Homo sapiens: one gene and its partner. The protein of the gene in region 2 purifies or fractionates together with the protein of the main gene of each other region. This does not show direct contact. Each region holds a gene or a part of one and is shown on either strand. Other genes may lie near its edges.

What was found. Proteins that work in one complex are often made in the same cells at the same time.
Region 1: the proteins of SMOC1 (region 2) and TRMU purify together in Homo sapiens (affinity purification with mass spectrometry; one large-scale study listed by BioGRID and IntAct). This does not show direct contact.

What each region holds. Positions count from the first base shown.
Region 1 is NC_000022.11:46,349,010-46,352,713, forward strand, and holds part of TRMU (mitochondrial tRNA-specific 2-thiouridylase 1), read left to right. Parts: intron 1-1,281; coding exon 1,282-1,454; intron 1,455-3,111; coding exon 3,112-3,165; intron 3,166-3,254; coding exon 3,255-3,321; intron 3,322-3,704. UniProt on the Homo sapiens protein: Catalyzes the 2-thiolation of uridine at the wobble position (U34) of mitochondrial tRNA(Lys), tRNA(Glu) and tRNA(Gln).
Region 2 is NC_000014.9:70,028,888-70,033,234, forward strand, and holds the end of SMOC1 (SPARC-related modular calcium-binding protein 1 isoform 1 precursor), read left to right. Parts: intron 1-1,354; coding exon 1,355-1,371; 3' UTR 1,372-3,479; downstream 3,480-4,347. UniProt on the Homo sapiens protein: Plays essential roles in both eye and limb development. Probable regulator of osteoblast differentiation.

The DNA of each region.
Region 1 (3,704 bases), on a different chromosome or scaffold from region 2:
ATGCCTGTAGTCCCAGGTACTCTGGAGGCTGAGACAGGAGAATCACTTGAACCCAGGAGGCGGAGATTGCCGTGAGCCGAGATGTGCCACTGCACTCCAGCCTGGGCGACAGAGCGAGACTCCATCTCAAAAAAAAAAAAAAAAGTGGACTCTGGAAAGTGCTCTGCTTCCGTGGCGACTGGTCGGCTGAACTTGGTCTCACTTGTCACTCAGTTCTGCTGTTTGTACCTGCCAAGTAAGGGAGGGGGACTCGGGAGGCTGGGCAGCCTCCAGCCCCACCGCCTCCACCTGCATCACTTTGGGCGAGTCATATGTGATGAACTGGGCCGGCTCCAGTCTCCCCTCTGTAACGTGGGGAGAATTCTCCCTCTCACGGCTAACGTGGGAATCGGCAGATGGAAAACACTAGCTACGCAGAGTGTGTACTGTACACGTGGCTCTGCCAAGCCAGGAAGGGTAGGTGTGCTGTCTGACCGTCACGGCATGTGGCGTGCTCTGAGTGTAACTCGAAAGGAGAAGTTTATGAGAAAGATTGAAAGAAGCCAGAAAACTGACGTTCGTCTTAGTTTTTTGCCATTGATCATTGAACTCGAGAGTGGAGAACTGGACGGTTCTAAGCCAGGTTTACTCACACCTCTGCTCCGTTGCCTTAAAGCCAGAAATGGTTCTTTACAATCACATAGGGAATGTCGGAGGAACTGCAGGGTCACCTAACAGATGTCAGCTGAGACTCTCAACAAAAAAACGTTTTTACCAAGAAAGCTAATGCCTTCACAGGTAGGGCGCTGCTGGAGGCATGTGCTGGCCGCCGGGCAGTGAACCTGGAAAGTGTAGAGTCCTTGAAACCACTGTGGCACGAACACATCCTGTGGTTGTTGGAAGAAGGCACAGCTGACACTATATCAGTGGAATTTTCTGCCAGCAACTAGCTTACTCCATTTTCCAAGATTTGGCTGAATTTATTTTAGGTGTTTTTTTTTTTTTTTCTTATCACTTGAGAACATTTTTTCATGTGATGTTTCATCTTTGAAAATATTATAATCTGAAGTATGAGCTGGAATAATTTCTTTGTCATGTAAAATCCTTGTTTTTTTTTTTGGAGGTGCGAATTTTTCTTACATTAACCCGTGGTGGTCTTTTCCCTAGTAGTTGCTATTGAGTGTTGATGTCTGCCTCTGACAGGCTAGGGGTAGTCTGTCTAAGTGAACAGAAGGACATTGTTGAAAGTGAAGTATCATTATTTTTATTCCTGCATCGTCTTTTGTTCTTTATTCTTGGCAGCGGTAAAACTCCTCCAGGCAGCTGACAGCTTTAAAGACCAGACCTTCTTTCTCAGCCAGGTTTCCCAGGATGCCCTGAGGAGAACCATCTTCCCTCTGGGGGGATTAACGAAAGAGTTTGTAAAGAAAATCGCTGCTGAGAATAGACTTCATCATGTGCTTCAGAAGAAAGAGGTACGAGTGAGCAGTTGCCTTTGATTAGTGCCTGTTTCCCTTTCCCGACTGCATGGCACGGAGCAGCTGGACCTGTGGGTCCCGCACCACTTCCCCTTCTCCAGGACCTAACATCAAAGGCGGGCCTTGGAGCAATAGATGGAGGAGTTTGCTGAGGCGCACGGTACAGGGCTCTGCTGACATCGGGAGCAGCCTATACGAGACTCCTTGCTTTTTTCCTCTCCTCTGCCCCTATGTGGTAGGCAGCTTTCCCCACAGCCTTAGCAGCTGGTGGGGTGCTCTTGGGATGGCCTGCCTGCCAGGTGAGTGCCAGGCAGTGTGATGCAGCCCCGAGACCCCTGGAGGGGCAGGTGCTGTGCCGCCGTCTGCACACTCATGTGCCCTGTCACCCGCTTGCCCGGCACAGACTCGTTCGGTGCCATCTGTTCGGGCGCTGTGCTGCTGGGCCGCGAGGAATTGGTGACGCGCACACAGTTCCATCTTCGCCTCCATGGAGCCCGCCCGCGAGTGGGGGACACAGGCAGGAGGCCAATCAGTGTAAACCTAGAAAATGTCTACGGAGGGAGGTGTAGGACCCTGGGTGGGAAGCACCAGTGGGGTCTGAGAGTAGGGAATGGAGATGCCAAAAACGGCCTCAAAAGAAGTCACATGGAACCTGAGACCTGAAGGAGGAGAGGATCCGGTGTCCCAGAGAGGGCTGGGAAAGTCCAGATGAGGGAACGGCAGTGCAAAGGCCTTGAGGCGAGGAGAAGCCAGGGAGCCGCTGTGGGGGTGCCTGCCTGTGGCCCCAGCTCCTCAGGAGGATCGAGCGCACCCAGGAGTTTGAGGACAGCCTGGGCAACACAGCGAAACTCGTCTCAAAAAGAGAGAACCCGGAGTGTTGGCGGAACTAGGATGAAGCCCGTGGGAGGGCCTTGGGGATGGAGGGCGAGGGCGCTGTGGGATGAGCCTCACCTCTTCAGGGGCCAGTGCGGTGGGAGCTGTTGCTCCTTCGTGTCTCTTCCTGGTAATGGAAACGGCCATACCTTTCATCAGAGCCATCTTCCCTGAAGAGCACGCCCACCGCCCGTCCTCCTCTCCTCTTGTTTTCCGTTTCCGGTGTCGCTCTGTGGTGGGAGCCGCAGGGATGGAAGGGCAGTCTTGAGAGACACAAACCAGAGTAAACGATGCAGCCCCTGATGGGGCCACGGTGGAGAGCGCACGCCACCCAGGCTCCCCAGCTAGGGCAGATGTGCTTGAGGAAGGCGCCTCTCTCCTCTGACTCCCCTGGAGCCCTCCCCTAAGGCCTTAGCTTCAGGCCTGGCTTTCCTGCTACCTGCCCCTTCTCTGGTCCCTGTCTCTCCCCCACTCCTCGCAGGACAGTGGCCTGAAGGACCTGACCGGGTTCTGCTTTCTTCCCCGGGGCAGCTGGTGTGAGGGTCTCCCGCGCAGGGTCAGACCCCGCGGGCCGAGACAATGAGGCGTTCTCTAAGGCTCTGGCATCGTGTGCGCCGGCTGTGACTGGCGGCCGAGGGTGCCGGTGGGCAGCCGGGCCCCTACCCTGGAAGCAAAGTGTGGGGTGAGGCCGGGAGGCCCCAGGGCCCGCTCAGGACGTCTGGGTACAGCTTGGGCCACCGCCACTTCTGCTCCTCTCACGGCTGCCGTCTTCTCATTTCAGAGCATGGGCATGTGTTTCATCGGGAAGAGGAATTTTGAACATTTCCTTCTTCAGGTGCGTGCTGCTCTTTGACACAAAGAGATGGGGCTGCGTGTCTGCCCTGGGCCTAGATCTCCGTCGGTAATGACATGTTTGTTTTCCAGTATCTGCAGCCTCGACCTGGTCACTTTATTTCCATAGAAGACAATAAGGTTCTGGGAACACATAAAGGTGAGGTGCAGACTCTGCCACTTGTCATCTGAAATGCCTAGAGCTGTGGCGTTTCAGCTCTGGGAGACTAGACCAGAGTTCCTGTCGTCCCTTCCACTTGGCTGGAGAATTGTAGAAGGCTCTGTGGGGCGGCCGGGGGCGGGCACGGCCTAGGGTGGAACAGTTGCCTTGATGGTGGCTGGGTGCACTTCCAGATGTGGCCTCAGCTGAGATGCTGGAGTTCATGAAAAGCGCGCCTCTGACTTGGAAGGACTATACTCTGTGAGTTACGTATCAAGTCCCTGTAAAAAGAATGATTTCCTTCCTGTGTAAGGAAAATGTTAAACTACACAAAACTCCACTCTGATTCAGGGAGTAAGGTGGACGTCCCGGCATGGTGTGAA
Region 2 (4,347 bases):
GCATAACCCAGGGGACATGGAGCTGTGGCTCACATGACCAGCGGGTGGGCTTGGGTTCTGCAGCGCTGTACACTCCTCAAAGCCCTTTCTCCTCCTCCATGAATTCAGTGGATCCTCAAGGCAATTCTGAGAGGGAGGCAGAGCAGAAGCCGTACAGCTGTGGTTCTAGCTCCCAGGCTGTAGACTGACCCAGAGAGGTTCAGGGGCATGCACAGAGTCACGTGGCCCTAAGCATCTCGGAGTGGTGGCGGGGGGCAGCTCTTGATGTGCTTGCCCCCAGCTCCTCGCTCCTCTTCAAGAGGCCAGGACCTGCTGGAGCAGGCGTGGCAGTTTCCACAATGGCTCAGCACCCTGTGGGGAGATGTGGGTGTCAGCAGAATGAGGCTGGGACTTTGTGTAAGTCGCCCCTCTGCTCTGAGCTGCTGCTGGATTCCTTCTACCTCTGACATTCTGTGACTCGGGGAACCAAGACCTGGGACAGTTCTGTCCAGGTACATCAGCACCAGAGCCCTTCTTAGTGGATAGCTGAGGGATTGCAAAGAGGTGCCCAGCAGGAGCCAGGCCTTATGGAAAAGGGACTTTGTGTGAAGGCGTTGGCCAGTAATAAGTTCACCTGAGCCATAGACACTCACAGAGCAAAAAGTAGGGCCAAACAACTTTTTGCTCTTTCCCAAGTCTGCTCTTTATTCTGAGGGTCAGAGAGGACAGAGACCCAGCATACGGAAGAAGGTGCCAGTTCTCTGGTCAAGGCCACTCAATGTCACATGTTCCTGGTTTGTTGCAGGTGGTAGCCTTGGCAGTTTCCCCCAGGCAAAATGAGCAGGCACAAACCCATTCAGTAAGTTGCCCCTTTCTGGGCTCCTCAGGGGTGAAGGGATTGGCCAGGTGACTTAAGCTCCCATTTTCAGGTTGTTTGCTGAGGACACGAGAGAACTATTGGGTCAGTGCCAATGGGATTCTGCCATCCCCACCTGTAAACAAACCCCTGTCGTTTCCACCCCAGCCCCAGGTTGAAAAGCTGGCATGTGAGAGTAGTGTGATCTGAACAGAGTGCACACCCTGCAACCCACACTTCCCTAGGCCAAGCCTCGTTCTCTCCAATGCCAGACTTATTTCAGTTGCAGTGGTGGTGCCTCATAGTGGCAAAGGACAGGCTGGTAAAACATGCTCATCTGCAAGTCCAGGCAACCTGTGCCCCACCTAGCCTCATAGAGGACAGCAGGTGGAAAAGGCTGCACTTGTGGGGAAATTGATGGACATAGCTGGATTTCTCACAAGCCCAACTCTAACTTCTTGCTTATATCTGCCCCCGACCTTTTTTTTTTTTTTTTTGCATTCTCCTTCCTTCTCTCAGTAGGACGCCTCGTCTAAGGAGCAGAAAACCCAAGGGCAGGTGGAGAGTCCAGGGAGGCAGGATGGATCACCAGACACCTAACCTTCAGCGTTGCCCATGGCCCTGCCACATCCCGTGTAACATAAGTGGTGCCCACCATGTTTGCACTTTTAATAACTCTTACTTGCGTGTTTTGTTTTTGGTTTCATTTTAAAACACCAATATCTAATACCACAGTGGGAAAAGGAAAGGGAAGAAAGACTTTATTCTCTCTCTTATTGTAAGTTTTTGGATCTGCTACTGACAACTTTTAGAGGGTTTTGGGGGGGTGGGGGAGGGTGTTGTTGGGGCTGAGAAGAAAGAGATTTATATGCTGTATATAAATATATATGTAAATTGTATAGTTCTTTTGTACAGGCATTGGCATTGCTGTTTGTTTATTTCTCTCCCTCTGCCTGCTGTGGGTGGTGGGCACTCTGGACACATAGTCCAGCTTTCTAAAATCCAGGACTCTATCCTGGGCCTACTAAACTTCTGTTTGGAGACTGACCCTTGTGTATAAAGACGGGAGTCCTGCAATTGTACTGCGGACTCCACGAGTTCTTTTCTGGTGGGAGGACTATATTGCCCCATGCCATTAGTTGTCAAAATTGATAAGTCACTTGGCTCTCGGCCTTGTCCAGGGAGGTTGGGCTAAGGAGAGATGGAAACTGCCCTGGGAGAGGAAGGGAGTCCAGATCCCATGAATAGCCCACACAGGTACCGGCTCTCAGAGGGTCCGTGCATTCCTGCTCTCCGGACCCCCAAAGGGCCCAGCATTGGTGGGTGCACCAGTATCTTAGTGACCCTCGGAGCAAATTATCCACAAAGGATTTGCATTACGTCACTCGAAACGTTTTCATCCATGCTTAGCATCTACTCTGTATAACGCATGAGAGGGGAGGCAAAGAAGAAAAAGACACACAGAAGGGCCTTTAAAAAAGTAGATATTTAATATCTAAGCAGGGGAGGGGACAGGACAGAAAGCCTGCACTGAGGGGTGCGGTGCCAACAGGGAAACTCTTCACCTCCCTGCAAACCTACCAGTGAGGCTCCCAGAGACGCAGCTGTCTCAGTGCCAGGGGCAGATTGGGTGTGACCTCTCCACTCCTCCATCTCCTGCTGTTGTCCTAGTGGCTATCACAGGCCTGGGTGGGTGGGTTGGGGGAGGTGTCAGTCACCTTGTTGGTAACACTAAAGTTGTTTTGTTGGTTTTTTAAAAACCCAATACTGAGGTTCTTCCTGTTCCCTCAAGTTTTCTTATGGGCTTCCAGGCTTTAAGCTAATTCCAGAAGTAAAACTGATCTTGGGTTTCCTATTCTGCCTCCCCTAGAAGGGCAGGGGTGATAACCCAGCTACAGGGAAATCCCGGCCCAGCTTTCCACAGGCATCACAGGCATCTTCCGCGGATTCTAGGGTGGGCTGCCCAGCCTTCTGGTCTGAGGCGCAGCTCCCTCTGCCCAGGTGCTGTGCCTATTCAAGTGGCCTTCAGGCAGAGCAGCAAGTGGCCCTTAGCGCCCCTTCCCATAAGCAGCTGTGGTGGCAGTGAGGGAGGTTGGGTAGCCCTGGACTGGTCCCCTCCTCAGATCACCCTTGCAAATCTGGCCTCATCTTGTATTCCAACCCGACATCCCTAAAAGTACCTCCACCCGTTCCGGGTCTGGAAGGCGTTGGCACCACAAGCACTGTCCCTGTGGGAGGAGCACAACCTTCTCGGGACAGGATCTGATGGGGTCTTGGGCTAAAGGAGGTCCCTGCTGTCCTGGAGAAAGTCCTAGAGGTTATCTCAGGAATGACTGGTGGCCCTGCCCCAACGTGGAAAGGTGGGAAGGAAGCCTTCTCCCATTAGCCCCAATGAGAGAACTCAACGTGCCGGAGCTGAGTGGGCCTTGCACGAGACACTGGCCCCACTTTCAGGCCTGGAGGAAGCATGCACACATGGAGACGGCGCCTGCCTGTAGATGTTTGGATCTTCGAGATCTCCCCAGGCATCTTGTCTCCCACAGGATCGTGTGTGTAGGTGGTGTTGTGTGGTTTTCCTTTGTGAAGGAGAGAGGGAAACTATTTGTAGCTTGTTTTATAAAAAATAAAAAATGGGTAAATCTTGGCGGCTGTTGCCTCTTTCTTTGGGTGGCTTCCTTTAATGAAAAGGCTTTATTTCCTAGAAAGCTTAGTTCGTTTCCCTGGCCTGGGTGCTCTCCACTTCCATCCAAGGACATCTGAGGTGCTGCCAATGATGAACCTAGCAGGGGACCCGGAAGTGGCCAGTGTGGTACTGCACCTAGAGAGGGGACTCCCTTGCTAAAGGTGTTTGTGCACTCTCTGTAATTCTTCCTCTTACCTCCACCCACATGTCTGCCCCACGGGATGCCCCTCCCTGACTGCCATTCCCTTCCTCTCACTGGAATGTAGGGAATGTTGCTGGCAGAGCTTTGGGGGCAGGGCTTGGGGAAGAGCCTATTCCATGGCTTCAGGCTGTTGAAAGTGGGTACATTGCCATCATCCAGATGACAAGACGCCAGGCTGAAATGTAGCCATAGGTGGGGAGCAGACCCCCAGTGGAGTTTTTCAGCCTGTACCCCAGTTTTGTGGGGTATCTATTCTGGCTGAGGCTGCAGGTCTGGTTTGCAGAGCTGGAGAACTCCCAGACGAGGATTGGCAGCAGGGGTGGAGATTCTAGGTTTTCTCCAGCGTGACCGGCCTCTTTGCCTTTTTCCCTGTGTGCACACACAGCTGTCCCTGGAAATGACCGCCTCAGCCATCCCCTTGGGAACCTTCTCCAGATTCCTTGTGCCACACTCTGCCCCCTTGTCTTTGCAGGTGAACAGAAGATAATTCCCCTTGTAAACCTCTCCTCCAGCCTTTGCTCCAGCTAGGCTTTCTTGCGACAGGGTCTAAGCCCCGGAATTTGATCACGCAGGCCACTCCTTGTCCAGGGCTTGTCCTTCCTTGCAGCTCAGAAGAGAGGACAGGTG